Regions from separate parts of the Homo sapiens genome. Here region 1 is linked to region 2. A link means that fine-mapping ties the variant in region 2 to the expression of a gene that starts in the linked region. Tissue or cell type: whole blood. Region 2 holds a variant in brackets; the other region holds the start of a gene. All regions are shown on one strand. Distances are between the middles of the regions.

Evidence for each region. PIP is the estimated chance that this variant, and not a neighbour inherited with it, causes the effect.
Region 1: it holds the start of DDX1, and the variant in region 2 is fine-mapped to the expression of DDX1 in whole blood (TOPMed, PIP above 0.99). The same link has a PIP of 0.9 or more in aorta, blood mononuclear cells, lung and monocytes.

Annotation. Positions count from the first base shown.
Region 1 is chr2:15,587,639-15,595,782 of GRCh38, forward strand. DDX1 (DEAD-box helicase 1) reads left to right here and starts at 4,230. Exons shown (of 26, transcript NM_004939.3): 1 at 4,230-4,311; 2 at 7,507-7,558; 3 at 7,852-7,915. The coding sequence starts at 4,296. LOC124905975 (a long non-coding RNA gene) reads right to left here and starts at 4,131. Exons shown (of 2, transcript XR_007086224.1): 1 at 3,822-4,131; 2 at 631-3,694. RefSeq lists an enhancer at 4,269-4,328.
Region 2 is chr2:15,621,355-15,629,354 of GRCh38, forward strand. It overlaps DDX1 (DEAD-box helicase 1), which reads left to right. Exons shown (of 26, transcript NM_004939.3): 19 at 2,082-2,228; 20 at 5,700-5,791; 21 at 7,091-7,163; 22 at 7,284-7,356; 23 at 7,443-7,485. Among named protein-coding and RNA genes, the nearest start is that of DDX1, 33 kb to the left of the region's middle. The variant G/A (reference allele first, on the strand shown) is at 3,216.

The sequences.
Region 1 (8,144 bases), 34 kb before region 2:
GCTAACCTAGGAACTGTGTATGGCTTTTGGGTGGTCCATCTACAGAGGCCTTCCCAGGACCCATCCTCTCTACACTTTCCCAGATACCTGAAGGCATTTTTTTTCAGGTCTGCCTTAGTAGTTGCAAAACCATTTGCTCTACAGTGGGATATAATTATAATATAGCTTACTTGAAAATACATAGCATAATATCTTGGGCCCATGGATAACATAGTAAAACTTCCCTATCACATGATTAGTGGGGCCCAAACTACCCAATTACAGAAAATGTGGGGTTATTCTGAGGTTAAAAAAAAAATACTGGGGGCAAGCCCAGGCTGAGGGGTGTGTGTGTGTGTGTTTGAGACAGAGTCTTGCTCTGTCGCCTAGGCTGGAGTGCAGTGGCATGATCTCGGCTCACTTCAACCTCCGCCTCCTGGGTTCAAGTGATTCTCCTGCCTCAGCCTCCCAAGTAGCTGGGATTACAGGCGCCCGCCACCAAGCACGGCTAATTTTTTGTATTTTTAGTAGAGACAGGGTTTCACCATGTTGGCCAGGCTGGTCTTGAACTCCTGACCTCAGGTAATCCACCCACCTCGGTCTCCCAAAGTGCTGGGATTACAGGCATGAGACACCACGCTCAGCCATATGTGTTTTTTAATTATAATTTTTTAAACAGCTTTATTAAGGTATAATTTAAATACCATAAAATTCACTAATGTACAATTCAATGATTCACAGAGCTGTGCAACCAGCACCACAATCCAGTTGTTGAAGACTTCCATCACCCGCCTTAAATGTCGCACGTCCATTTGTATAAATGGAGACAGATGAACAAAAGCCTACGCTGGGAGTTTTTAGGGTCCAGTCCAATCTCTTCTCAGTTTGGCTACAGTTTGGTGCCACCTGGTGGTGTCTGTCCTGGTTTCTGGGACCAGGCCAGGGTTTCTAGGAATCTCCCAGTTAGTAGGCAACCATTAAATCAACCTATTCTTGGGGAGACTAGACCAGCAAAATACCAGACTGAAAGGCACCCATCCTCTATCTTTTGGTTTGGTGAAGGGCCTGGCTGCTGTTTCTCTGCCTGGTGTTATTCTACCTGCCAAGGAGAGGAGCCAATCATACCCCAATTCACATATCCCAATTTGCATTACTGAGGGCACTGCAACACATACATACAAATATCTATAATTATTAAAGCAGTATATTAAGTGAGCTGAACTTGATAAGGCACAAACAGAAAACATTATCTGTTACCTTGAAATCATCTCTATGGGTTATTTCTTTCCCTGACCTAGATGAAGTCTCTGGCATCTTCCAGAGCTTTTCTGGTCACTCTGAGACAATGAAGAGTTGTCTGGTTACTTTCATCTAATTATACCCTCGTTTCTGTAAACTATCATGTCCAGGATCGTGATTGAAATTCACAACTTCAACCAACATCATGGCTTCCTCCTCTTCCTGCTTGGCCTATTCCACGCCAGAAGCCTGCAGTGGGATGGAGGATGGGGTCAGTCTCTTTTCTGTACTCGCCTCTCCCATTAGCTGTTGTTTCTGACTCCTGGGAAGGATAAAGTCTAGGGGATGGGGTGGCGGGTGGGTACACACCTTTATCTGGCTGGGTTTATGGTGATCTGATTCTGGTGCTTTCTGGCTTAGACATGCTCAAGGCTGATTGTTTCTCTTAGAGGGAACTTTTTGTGGTATCTTGGAGATTCTCCTTGCTGGCATCCTCCACATGCAACTCCCATGAGACAAGAGATATCTCTTCTCCAGTTTGGAAGGTAAGGATGCCACTGCGTTCTTTGGGGGGTCTGTGTGCTGAATCATTTAGCTCCTCCGGGAAGTCTCTTGGGCACATTCCCTTTGAAGAAAACTTCCAGTCCACTCTCCACAGATCTATTTATCCCTTGGGGAAAAAATGTCACACGATTCCCCCACAGTTAACTCCTGCAGCAGGCTTCTCTCTCCTTCTCTCTGTCTCTTTTTCTGCCCTGCCACCTCAGGTCCTCCTAGGGACGGCTTCTCAGAGCAGTCCTTACGCTTCCCAAACTCTCAGATCAAAAGTTCTCAGAGTATTTCCCTGAAATGCATTCTTTTCACAGAAATCTTTTCTCTTAATTTGCATCTTTAATTTTTTCATACTTTATCTCTTCCTTGAGACAGGGTCTTGCTCTGCCACCCAGGCTGGAGTACAGTGACACCATCATAGCTCACTGCAGCCTCCACCTCCTAGGCTCAAGAGATCCTCCCACCTCAGCCTCCCAAGTAGCTGAGACTACAGGTGTGCACCATGCCCAACTATTTTTTAATTTTTTTTGGAGATGGGGGTCTCATTATGTTGCCCAGGCTGGTCTTGAACTTCTGGGCTCAAGTGATCCCCTTGCCTCAGCCTCCCAAGGTGTTGGGATTATAGACATGAGCCATCATGCCCAGCCGATTTTTCACACTTTAAAGGTGGGCATTGGCAAAAGGCACAAAAATTAGATTTCAGATTTCCCTTTGGCAAGTCCTGCATAATATGGGTCTTGTATCTCTCCTTGGAATGTGGGGGTACTTGGTATCCATTCAAAACTGGTACACTGCATAACTCTCAGGGTCTTATTTAGACAAAATATAACAAGAATAGAGAATATAATGTGAATAGTGCCCCCTGGAAGTGTAAAGCTGCAGGGCTGAGTGTATTGTCCTGGGCCTTTGGAGCTTCAGGTGAATCCTGTTACATGTAATAGTAATAACAGAGCTAGTTATATTGTCACCATGTGCTATGCACTATTTTAGATGCTTTATGTATTTTATTTGATCCTCATAACTATCATATGAGAAAGGTACTATTGTTCATCCCTATTTCACAGGTAAGTAAACTGAAGCCCAAAGAAGCTTCATGACTTGTTCAAGGTCACACAGCAAGCAAGTGGCAGACCTAGAATCCAAACTCAGAATATGGTTCCCAACTCTGTACTTCTAACCCTATTCTATCTTTTTTATTTTTTATTTTTTTGAGACAGACTCTCCCTCTGTCGCCCAGGCTAGAGTGTAGTGGCACGATCTCAGCTCACTGCAGCTTTCGCCTCCCAGGTTCATGTGATTCTCATGCCTCAGCCTCCGGAGTAGCTGCAACCCTATTCTTTTTTCTTTTTTTTTTTTTTTGAGACGGAGTCTCGCTCGGTCACCCAGGCTGGAGTGCAGTGGCGCGATCTCGGCTCACTGCAACCTTCGCCTCCTGGGTTCAAGCGATTCTCCTGCCTCAGCCTCCCGAGTAGCTGGGACTACAGGCATGCACCACCACACCCGGCTTCTTCTGTGTGTGTGTGTGTGTGTGTGTGTGTGTGTATTTTTTGTAGAGAAGGGGTTTCACCGTGTTAGCTAGGATGGTCTCGACCTCCTGACTTCGTGATCCGCCTGCCTCGGCCTCCCAAAGTGCTGGGATTACAGGCGTGAGCCCCCGCGCCCGGCCGCTGCAACCCTATTCTATCTTGCCTGAGGGTTCCACTTTTCTCCATGACACTCTGGGGCAGGCTACAGATAGCACAGCACGCGCCCTCGCATTGCGCAGATGTGGCTCAGATCCCACGCTGCCATTCGGTAGATATGTGTCTTTAGATAAGTGACTTAACTTTCCCGAATTTTAGAGTCCTCATCTAAAGATTCTAATACCTTCCTGACAGAGTGAGTGTCTGGTTGGGAGGATTCCTCATTTACTTTCCCCATCTCTCTGCAAAGAGAAAGGAGTTAAAATTGCATGGAAGTCAAACCCGAAATTATAAAAGCGACATCAAACATGGGTGAAGGGAGGGAGACCTAAATCATTACTTAGTTTAAAAAAAAAATGTAACAAATACCTACTGGCTGCCAGGCACTCACTGGCATTGGTGCTCAGGGCAATGAATCCAGTCCATCTCTCCGGGTCATTCACACACCAAGGCCCTGCTCACCTTTGGAAAGCTGGGGGACTGAGTGGGGAGGGCACGGTGTGGTGTCAGCCTGAGCCCACTGGATGACCCTAATCACCAAACATCTGCTTCCTTCTCTGTAGCTGTGACCCTGATACCGCGTGGTGTGCTCCGAACACATGGTGCCCAGAACGAAGGCGGCGTCCAGAAGCCCTAGGTCCCAGAGGTCCGCTCAGCGGCAGGCGCATAAGGCGGGGCCGGCGCGGGCCTTTCCTTCCATCGGAACCGTTCTCCCGGGGCTGAGTCCCTGCCCGGACTCCGAACGCCGAAGACCAGGGGCCGGAAGCGCGCGCCGCCACTGCCACGCCGTGTCAGTCGGGAGGGAGGGAGCGAGCAGGCGAAGCCGCGGAGGACGGGGTGAAGATGGCGGCCTTCTCCGGTGCGTTTGTGGAAACTCTGGGGGTGGTGGGGCGGCTTGTTGCACGCCTCAGCCCTGGGGCCGCCCGCGGAGAGCTAAAGGGGCGGGAGCGGACAGGGGTCAGGGAGACAGAAGGGCGCTGTCCGCTGCAGTCCCTGATGGACCCGCGTTGCGGGATCAGGGGCGGCCGCGGCTCGGGTTCGGAGGACGATTCTTCCCAGGAGCGGGCCGGAACGTCCCTCCCCCTGCCCTTTCCCTTCTACCAGTCTCCACTTGGCTTTCCTGCCAGTGCACCTTCGGCTGCAAAATCTAGGCGGCGGCGTTGCTCTGGCGGCTCCCAGACGCCTGGGCCTCCTGCCTCTTAACGTGGCAGTGACCCTTTGGGAACCCTTTTCTGCCCGCGGCTCATCTGGGCTTGGCCAGGCAGAGAGGCGAGACGGCGTGGGGAGGAGTCATTGGGGAAAAATGACGATCCTGCCTCTGTCCAGTTTTTTCAGGCCCTTCCAAAACGTCCCAGGCATAAACCTGATCTTTATTTGTTCTTAAACGTTGTTATATCAACATTAATGTTCAGTGTTGAAGCTAAAGGGAAAGCATTTTCATTAACGTACGCACCAGTCCAACATAAGTTTGGAAAATTCATATTTATTTGCCGTCTGCTACCCTCCTTTATTCCAAATATGATTTGATATGGCTTATCGAACCCTACAGTTGATATTTTCGCCTCTTGCTTTATCATCCTCCTGTTAGGCATCCAGTTTTAGGAAGCTGTAATCAGCCTTAAATGCGCTAAACGTGATACATTTATGTAGCACTTATGTAACGTTTATTGCTATATAAATGTATCACGTTAGGCCTAATGTCCTTTAATGTTATTAACTTTTTAAGATGACTTCAGATGTAGTATTTTATATTTTTTAGTTTTCTTCTGTAAGAATATTAGGAATTCCATATCTCCAGTCATGTAAGATATTTTTTTTCTTTTTTGGGGGGGAGAATGGGGGGGTGGGGGGATGTAGTCTCCTTCTGTCGCCCCAGCTGGAGTGCAATGGTGTGATCTTGGCTCACTGCAGCCTCCACCTCCCAGGTTCAAGCAATTCTCCTGCCTCAGCCTCCTGAGTAGCTGGGATTACAGGCGCCTACCACCATGCCCTGCTCATTTTTGTATTATTAGTAGAGACGGGGGTTTCACCATGTTGGCCAGGCTGGTCTCGAACTCCTGACCTCAGGTGATCCGCTCACCTCGGCTTCCCAAAGTGCAACAGTCATGTAAGATTTCTGACTGTTTCAGTTACATCTTCTAATAGGATTCAATTGGAAACTGCTCAGAGTTGTTGCTGTTTTTCTTTTCCCAACATTCTCCTAAAACGATTTTAGAGCCAAGGTCTGTAGGATAGTTCTAGGTAGTCATTTTATAGGTTCACATCTTTGGGAGTCATACACAAATTTCATGAATGTTAGAGGTAAAGGACTGGAAAAAGTCTGTGATATGAAATAAGACAAAACTGGAATTTCACGAATGTTTCTAATTTTTCCTTAACTGTTAAAAGTATTATACTTAAGGTCCGCTTTCAAAGAAAACTTGCAGGGAACATGACCAGAATGGTACAAGAGATTGTCTGGAATTTACTGAAAATGATATGTTGTTTCTTGTATAACAATTTTGCAAAGAGCTTCAGCTTGCAGTATTCCGTATGCAGTAAGAACACACCACTCCTTTGTTTCAAGCAGTTTGCATTTTAGGAGAGAGAACATAGACTGTAATACAGGTTAATTCTTAGGAAGGTCTGCCTGGATATTCAACTTTAGATCTTCATTAGTTTATCTGTGGCTTTTTTTTTTCCTGAGATTAAGAGCTAGGAAAGTCGCCAGGTGCAGTGGCTTATGCCTGTAATCCCAGCACTTTGGGAGTCCAAGGTGGGCAGATCACGAGGTCAGGAGATTGAGACCATCCTGGCTAACACAGTGAAACCCCGTCTCTACTAAAAATATGAAAAAAAATTAGCGGGCGTGGTGGCATGCGCCTGTAGCCCCAGCTCCTCGGGAGGCTGAGGCAGGAGAATTGCTTGAATCTGGGAGACGGAGTTTGCAGTGAGTGGAGATCATGCCCCTACACTCCAGCCTGGGTGACAGAGTGAGACTGTCTCAAAAAAAAACAAAAGAAAAGAAAAAAAAGAAAAAGAGTTAGGAGAGCCTTCTTTGAAAATGATGATCCTTCTCATCTGATGCAAAGAAAAAGCTACATAATTTTATGAAGAATATTTTCAGTTTGTATGTTTGCTTTATGCCTTTTCACAATGGCAAGAAATACAGAATTTCAGAATTGGTTATTTCTGGGGCTTGGGAATGTTTGATTCTTGTTCTTTTTTTTATAGGAATATATATTTTTATGATAAAGCTATATTTTATAAATACAGACTTAAAATAAAAATCACTTGTCTTTTGGAAGGAAAGTTTAAGTAATCCAACTAACTACTCCATATATAATTACCCTCTACAGTTCATATGAGAAATGATAAAATGACAAAACCCGGTTAGGAGCAACTCATCTCTATTCATTTAGGATGGGCCTTGAAGTAGAATTATTGAGATATGTATACAGTTAAGAACTCAGCAGTTCTTCAGCTGACATTTCCAGGTGCCCACGTTTTCACCACTGACCCCTCCCTCTTCAGTTATTCAGAATTTTGATTATGGCTGCCAATAAATGTGGGTGCTCGCCACTTGTCTATTCATTTTTTTCCAATTGCTGAGGGTATTCACATGGTCCTAGAATAGCCAAGGCACATAACTGCCACATTGTCTCTAAATGCAACAACCCTGTCTATTCTTGGCAGACTTTTCACGAGTCATGAGAGGTAAACAGGCACTGTAGTGGCTACAGTTTATTAGGTGACAACCATGCTCCAGTTGCATTACATGATTATCTCTGGTCTTCATATAGCCCTGCAAGGTAGGCAATATCAGCCCCATTTTGTGTGGAGAAAACAGATTTATAGCTTTGCCTAAGGTCACTTGCTAATAAGTGAGAACTTAGATTTGAACTCAGGTCTTTCTCCAGAACTTGTGCTCTTTCAACAGTGCCACGCTCAGTAGATTTGATGTAACTGAGCTATCCTTCAAAATCTTTACCCTGTTTTATGAATAGTAATTTTGAGAGCAATGCAATTTATCATTTCAGTTTATGTGGTTTTTAAAATTAATTTTTACTTTCAGAGATGGGTGTAATGCCTGAGATTGCACAAGCTGTGGAAGAGATGGATTGGCTGTAAGTACATAAAGCCTAAATGTACCTGGGAGAGGATGTTTTATAATTTAAACAGTTGTTAGTGATTTTATCAAATATTTTTGTGTCTAGTTGGGTAAGTGAAAATCAGGTTTTTTTTGTGATTTTCTAAATTATGGAAAGTTTCCTTTTTTTAACCTTGACATATTTCTAGTGGAATAAGATGGATCGTATTTACCACGTAAAATTTTCTTTTAGGCAAATTAACGTGACTTAATTTGCTTAGGCGATTTTTTTCCCCAGTAACTAAAATTCTTCAAATATGATTCTTTTAGCCTCCCAACTGATATCCAGGCTGAATCTATCCCATTGATCTTAGGAGGAGGTGATGTACTTATGGTAAGTTTAAATTTGGTGAGGTGATTGGTAGCTGGGGACACACTCTAAGAATTGCATAGGCTTACAAATGCTACTTTACCTTTATTCACAAACATTTATGATACATATACTGTATTCAGACTATTAGGTAAAAGCTTCAAACAGGTAAGTATTTACTCCTGAGAAGCTTAAACCCACTAGGGCAATAAGACATGTATAAGAATGAATCTCGTATCAGAGAGAATGTGGC
Region 2 (8,000 bases):
GGAGTGCAATGGCACAGTCTCAGCTCAAGGCAACCTCGGCCACCCGGGTTCAAGCAGTTCTCTTCTTGCCTCAGCCTCCCAAGTAGCTGGGATCGCCCGCCACCATGCCTGGCTAATTTTTTTATATTTTTAGTAGAGATGGGGTTTCACCATGTTGGCCAGGCTGGTCTTAAACTCCTGACCTCAGGTGATCCTCCCACCTCGACCTCCCAAAGTTCTGGGATTACAGGCATGAGCCACCATGCCTGGCCTTAATCATTGAATTTAGATGTTAGTCTCCTGGCATCTAAATCACTTTTTTTTTTTTTGTTTTTTTGAGACACGGTCTCACTCTGTCACCCAGACTAGAGTGCACTGGTGCGATTTTGGCTCACCACAACCTCTGCCTCCCAGGCTCAAGCAGTTCTCCTGCCTCAGCCTCCCGGGTAGCTGGGATTACAGGCACGTGCCACTACCACCTGGCTAATTTTTGTGTTTTCAGTAGAGATGAGGTTTCACCATGTGGGCCAGGCTGGTCTTGAACTCCTGACCTCAAATGATCCACCCGCCTTGGCTTCACAAAGTGCTGGGATTATAGGCGTGAGCCACTGCACCCAGCCACAAATATTTTTGATTATCTAATTCTCATCATAGGAAAACAGCGAATTTTTCTAGAGAGATTATTTTATATTGACCCTGAATTCCATAAGAAATATCATGTAAGTTTCTCATATCAGGAATATTGCATAAGAAAGAAAACTTTCTTTAGCTATAGCTTTGCAAAAGATACTGAAATTGTTTTGAAATAGTTGTTGACTTTTTTGTGTGTGGTAGAATATACATAACATAAAACTTAGCATTTTAACTATTAGTGTACAGTTCATTGGCATTAAGTACATTCATATTGTTGTACAATCATCACCACTGTCCATCTCCAGAACTTTTTCATCTTCTTAAACTGAAAATCTGTATCATTAAATATTTATCAATTTTTAAAAAGCCTAACATTAAATTCCGCCTCAATGAAGATTCTTCTTTGCAGAGCTGAGACTCTTTGTTTCAGGTTAAATAGTGTTTTGAAAATATAGGAAGGTACATCATGATACAAGGTTGGTGCTTAGAAAACCTAGAAGAATGGATCTTAAACCCATTAGGCTGCATGTCTGACATGAGATGTTTCAGGTGGATCATTCATTGGTGAGGGTCGGACTCTGCTTGCTTCATGGTTGAATTTCAACTATATCAAAATGGTGAATTATCTGAAATCTTGATTAAAGATTTGAACTCAGTTTTATATGTAGGTCTAAATTAACAAGACACATACTTAGTTATCCTTATTGTTGGAGAAGAGCAGAGACACTGTTTGAAAATCTGTCATCCCAAATGCATTTTATAAAATTCCAGTTTTTATTGCTTCTTATATTTTTCTTGCATAAGTTTTGCTTAGTTTAGACTAACAATTAGAGATGATCAGAGAGACCTTAGAAATATGTTGGGTCACAGAATTAAAGTCTTACATTCAGTGGTTGAGGAATAACAATTATAGCACAGCTTCACACTGAAAAATAGAGAGTTGGAGGATGGTGACTAAAAAATTACTAGAGTTTTGTGTTAAGGTTTTTACTGCGTAGAGTGAAGTATGAACTTTCTGGTATTTAGATTGATTTAGAAAGTACATTAATTATTTTTAAAAGGAGTTAAAATAATTGTATAAAGCATTTATTGAGCATTTAGGGAAGTTCATGCAAGGCAGAATATGATTTGTTCTTCATGAGAGATAACAGTTTTGCTGTATGTATTTCTGTTAATTTGTACGTGTGTATGTGTGTGTTCCCTCATAAGGGGTACGGTTATGGGTGTTTATATACCCCATAAAGTAGCATAAAAAATATTAACAGAAACAAAAATAAATGAATGAATGGTTTAACTCACTGTTTTACTCTATCTTTACTTCTTGTCCTTATCTATATATAATACTTTTATTAAAACAAGTATTCTTTTTTAGGAAAATTAAGCAGTCAGTCTGTGACTATAATTATGTGTATTCATGACAAGTTCAGATTGAAATTCTGTTGGTTTTTGTTGTTGTTATGATATTCAAGAGATGTGGTCTGAAGCTATTAAAATCCTGAAAGGGGAGTATGCTGTCCGGGCAATCAAGGAACATAAGATGGATCAAGCAATTATCTTCTGTAGAACCAAAATTGACTGTGATAACTTGGAGCAGTACTTTATACAACAAGGAGGAGGTAATTTTTTCTCACTTGAAATAAATTGTGTTTATATCCTCTTGTAATAGATTATTAATCTCATGTTGATGCAATCTAGAACACATGCACAGAATTTAAAGCAGTTGATGGCATATTTTAAGTATCTATGCTTATTCAGTACTTTTCCATATGATAAGCCCTAGGAAAAACAAGAGAGAATTTTCCACGTAGGTACATTTTCATTACAGTAAACTTGAATCACAGCATCCTAAGAGTTTTATATTATATGGAAGAAGGATAAAGTAATTTATTAGTCTTAAAATTTAAAATATGATCACTGAAATAATAGAATGTATGTCTTTTAAACCAGTAGATGGGGAAAGGGGAATGAGGAAAAAAAACCTAAACAAGAGCAAGAAAGGAAGGGGAATAAAATGAGAAAAATTATGGTTAGAAATTATAGAATAAGATCAATGTTGGAAAAATCTGAATGTATGAGTAAACACTGTAAGTATCAGTGGACACGGTCTTCTGTTATAAAGCATGGATTGTTGGACTGGATGAAATCTAGCAATACGCTGTTTACATGGAGCATACCCAAAATCTGAGGACATAGAAAGATGGAAAAGGAATGAAAAAATATTATGCATGTGTCAGCTAAAATATTAACCAAAAGAAAGCCAGTCTAGCTATATTAATAAGAGTTGCAGTAGACTTTAAGACAAATATTACTAGAAATAAAGAGTCACTATGTAATAAAATATCCAAGCTACAATGGAAGTATAAGGGTTCAGATTTTATGCTTCTTATAACTTCGAGAATGTAAACTGTATTAGTCTGTTCTTATGCTGCTATGAAGAACTGCCTGAGGCTGGGTAATTTATAAAGGAAAGAGGTTTAATTGACTCACAGTTCTTCAGAGCTGGGGAAGCAAACACGTCCTTCTTTACATGGCAGCAGGAAGGAGAAGTGCCAAGCAAAGTAGGAAAAGCCCCTTATAAAACCATCAGATCTCATGAGGACTCC[G/A]TCACTATCACGAGAACAGCATGAGGATAACCACCCACATGATTCTATTATCTCCTACCAGGTCCCTCCCACATGTGGGGATTATGGGAACTACAATTCAAGATGAGATTTGGATGGAGACCCAGCCAAATTATATCATAAACCAACATGGAAAAATTCTCAATCAGTTGTTATGGAAATGCAAAATAAAATGACAGTATAATACCGTTGTACATGCTAAACTAAAAATACAACACCGAATTTTGGCTGTGGAGCAACTGCATACAGTTGTTGAGAATAGATTGTTGGTGAGAATATAAAATGGTATGAGCACTTTAGCAAAGGGTCTTGCAGTCTTTTATAAAGCTAAAAATGCTGTCTTATGGCCTAGCAATTAAACTGCTAGATGTTTACCCAGGATAAATGAAAACACATATTGACAAAAAGATGCTAGAATGGCCATAGCAGCTTTATTTATAATATTCTAAAACTGAAAACACACTAAGTGTCCATCAGTAGGAGAATGGATAAATAAAGTGTGAAATACAGTGGAATACTACTCAGCAGTGAAAAGGAACAGACTTTTCCTTGCTGAGTAAACACAGCAATGATGGATGAATCTCAGAAACCTTATGCCAAATGAAAGAATTCTTACTCAAGAATATACACTGTATCAATCTATTTATATGACATTTTTAAAAAGTCAGAACTAATCTGTGATGGAAAAAATGTCAGAACAGTAGTAGTCCCCACAAGGGTGGCAGTAGGGATAGGCTGGGAAAGGATATGAGGGTATTTTTTGGTGTGATAATGATGTTCTGTATCCTAATGGGACTTTCTCAGCAAATCTACTTAAGATTTGTAGATTTCTTGAATACAACTTTTACCTCAAAAGAAAAAACTAAACAAATATTGAATTCTAGTTAATTATATGCATGCCGAACTCTGTACTGATGTCTGCAATTTACATTGAAATGTACAAAAATATGAAGATGAGTTGATGGATGGATACAGGTATAGGTAGATATGTGGTTAAAGCAAGTATAATAAAATGTTAATTGTTGAATCTAGGTGGTGGATATACAACTGTTCATCCTTAAAATTATTTCAGTGTTGCTACGTGTTTGAAAATATAAATATTGGAAAAATATAAAAAGTAAAAATTGGCAGATATAGAAGGTAACATACAAATCCCATTATTGTACTGAGGAAAGACTAACACATTTTGTTATAACTGATGTACGTCAAGGAAATAGAAAACTCAAGAAGGATATAGAATATTTGAACTAATGGTCATATAAAGAATACATTACACTGTTCATTACAGTGAGTGCTTAAGTAACACATTTTTTTTTTCAAGTCCTGGCAAACAGACTTGCTTGGTTGTTATAGTGACTGTTTTGTAGTACTTAATTTTCTTCCTGTCTATGTTTTGAATGGAGGAGTTGATTATGTAGTAAGGAGTACTGTTGATTAAGTAGTAATATCCCTTTAGTTACTTTGATGCTCCTTCCCTAAATATTCTGGATGTAGATGTTACTTCTGCCTAGAAAACAAGTTTATTACACCATTACTAACACTCAAACACAATATATACCAGATTACAGGGGTTTAAAAGAAGGGATCAAAGGATCCCTCTCCCCTCCACACATACCCTAACCAGAGAGTTATAGTGTGTATTTGATACTTCCCTAAACCACTTGAATGCAGGATGCAATAAAATCTCAGCTGTATACCTCTAGAAGTTCTGGTTAGCTGTTATTTCACCTCTGCATAATTAATTTTTGTGTTATTCATTTTGAATAGATATCTGTCAAAATGTATTGTTTCCTTGAATTTTCAAGTATACTTACTGAACTTAATTTACCTTGGAGAATAGTTAAGTGCCATAATTGTTATTTTGTTACATCCCAGTGGTTACTCTTTTTGTTACTGTGTCTACTTGAAGAGTTTTCTTTTGGGGGGTTGGCTACCACTGCACTTGCCTCTAAAATAACACCTCTCCATCTTTACAGTTTGCTGCTTTGAATCTTCTGTGGCCATGAAACTAGATAACTATGTTGCTTAAAATACCTTGAGAAGAGAGCAGGCTTATGGGCATGGCCTTTTAGGAAGCACATTAACTTGATGATGCTTAATTTTGGTTCCTCCAAGAATGATCTCTTTTGCCTACTTTTTGAGTCTTAGCTTTATGGAGGATAGTGAGGTTCCTGGTGTACACATAGGCATTTTAGTTGGTACACTGCTTGATCCACTCCTCCTACAGATTGGGAAGGGTGACTTAAAATGCCCTTAAAAGCAGGACAACTTTAATGCTCCGTAGAGTTCATTTTAATGGTACTTCGTTTGTGACATAAATTGTGTTAACCATGGTTTATAGCAAGTTGGGGCATAGATTTTTATGGAATTGTGTGGCACTATTGTAGTCTGAATTTTATTGGCTTTTTTACATAGTCTTAGGCAGAAGATTTTCCAAGGTTAAATGCTTAATGTGCTTTTCACTAGGACCTGATAAAAAAGGACACCAGTTCTCATGTGTTTGTCTTCATGGTGACAGAAAGCCTCATGAGAGAAAGCAAAACTTGGAAAGATTTAAGGTACTGATACATAGTTGATTGTTTCCTTAATACTTAAGAGGGGCATTATATCTAGTTTTAAGCAGTTTTAATTAATATTATTAAAGCAATTATTGTCCTAGAAATTTCAAAATGTTTCTACCCTAACTAATGTGTCATCATCATGACAGGAATTAGTCATTGTTGACACTCAAATGGTAAATTATACATTCTCTATCAGCATAACACTACTATAACAGGAATTTTCAATTTCAGAAATTTTAGTTAAATTATTTCAGGTAGATATTTTTAGGAGAAGTATCATTGGATAGTTAAGCCATGTCTATGTGCCTTAAAAACAGTCTCCAGCAATAGCCATAAGGAACTTAATTTGTAGATTAATTAAGACAGGTATCAGAATATGGCTATGTAGAATTAAAGGTATTTTGATACTGTTTGGGGCAGACCTTTCCAGTTATATGCTTGCAGCACATGAACGGGTCATATAGCTCTTGGTGTAAGTGGGTGGGTAAGTAAATGGCTTGAGCCATTTAGAACTAAAGATCGGTAACCTGTCTACCTGCAAGCAGTCTCATTAATTTAATAGGCCCCAGTGTATAGCATAAGTATCATTTTCTAAGAAAAAAGATGGGAAGTATTGGGTTGAAGAACTTTGGCTTACGTTTCCATGCTGGGCATAATTGATGCAGATGTGAAAACACATCGCATGGCCTCGTTTGAATGTGTGCTACCCTTCTCAACCGTAGGCATTTTTCTGGACCATAAGTCAGTATACCCTTCTTCCCTCCCCCAGATCTCTAATTTTGCTGTGCCTTGAGGCACAAATGACATTGAAAGGCTAATTTGTATTTCTTGGTGAGCACCAGGGGCCTACCCTCATTTTCCTCCCCTTGAGAATTTTGTCTGTTACAAAAAATGTAGCCTCCAGGTAAAATATCTAGTATTCTGAGTTTATTTGAATTTAAGAGTAAAGATAATGCTTATGTCTGTACATTGTATTCTGTTTTGTCTTTCTCTTCAATTTCTAAAGATATTTATAAAGATTAAGCCAAGTTTTAGCAATAGTTTAATATCTTTGAGTAGAAAAAGAAAAGCAAAAATGAACCCAATCTCTGATTTAATCACCTTAAATGTCATGTTTCAGCAGATCATGACATAAAACTTCAAGACTTGGTCCAGTAAATTAGGAGTATGTCGACCTCTAATCTGATAGTAACACTTGAGTTTTTAGAGGTCTCATTTAGTGGAAGGATAGCATTTGTTTTTATTGTTTAGTATATGTGCTAACAAACTCCTTTCTCTCTTCACTGTTCTCTTTAGAAAGGAGATGTAAGATTCTTGATTTGCACAGATGTAGCTGCTAGAGGAATTGATATCCACGGTGTTCCTTATGGTAAAAAGCAACTTTTTATGCCTGTAGTGTGATTGTTACGGAATCTAAAGTAAAGCCTTCTAATATGTTTGAAAAATTTAGAAACTACTGGCAATTGTTAATAATGGTTTTTATTTATAGTTATAAATGTCACTCTGCCCGATGAAAAGCAAAACTACGTACATCGAATTGGCAGAGTAGGAAGAGCTGAAAGGTACTTCTGCAATTTTTTTTCCCCCATTTTTAAGCTTGTATGCTTTAGGAATAAAGTCTAATAGAAGGCTTTTAACCATCTTTCAGGATGGGTCTGGCAATTTCCCTGGTGGCAACAGAAAAAGAAAAGGTAATCTTTGTAGGGCTCTATTATATTCATTGTGTGTGTTGTGATTTTAGATGTTGGAAATAAAAGCAGTTTGATTTTCCCATTTAAATTTAATTCAGCTGCGTATGGAATACAAATGAACTTTTTAATGTCATCTTTTTTCCTATATTCATTGAATGGACAAATAATAGGGTGAAATTTAGAAAGGAAAAATGCAAAATATAATTTTTCCAACTAGCTTTATTGTACTCATTTCCACCAAAAAATATTTAAACATTTTCTGGCATGGTGCCATGGAAGACCTTTCATGGTGAGGGGAGATTTATTTTGATATAATTACAAATTTATAGAAAAGTTGTATTCATAAAGAGCTCCCATATACTCATTGCCAAATTCAGTAGTTGTACATTTTGCATTATTTGCTTTATTATTCTCTTATACAAAAGATTTGAACTTATTTTTCTTTTGAACTTTTTTATGTTAATATTGACATAGTATGCTTCAATATTTACTTTTTCATCCTACTTTTATCTGAG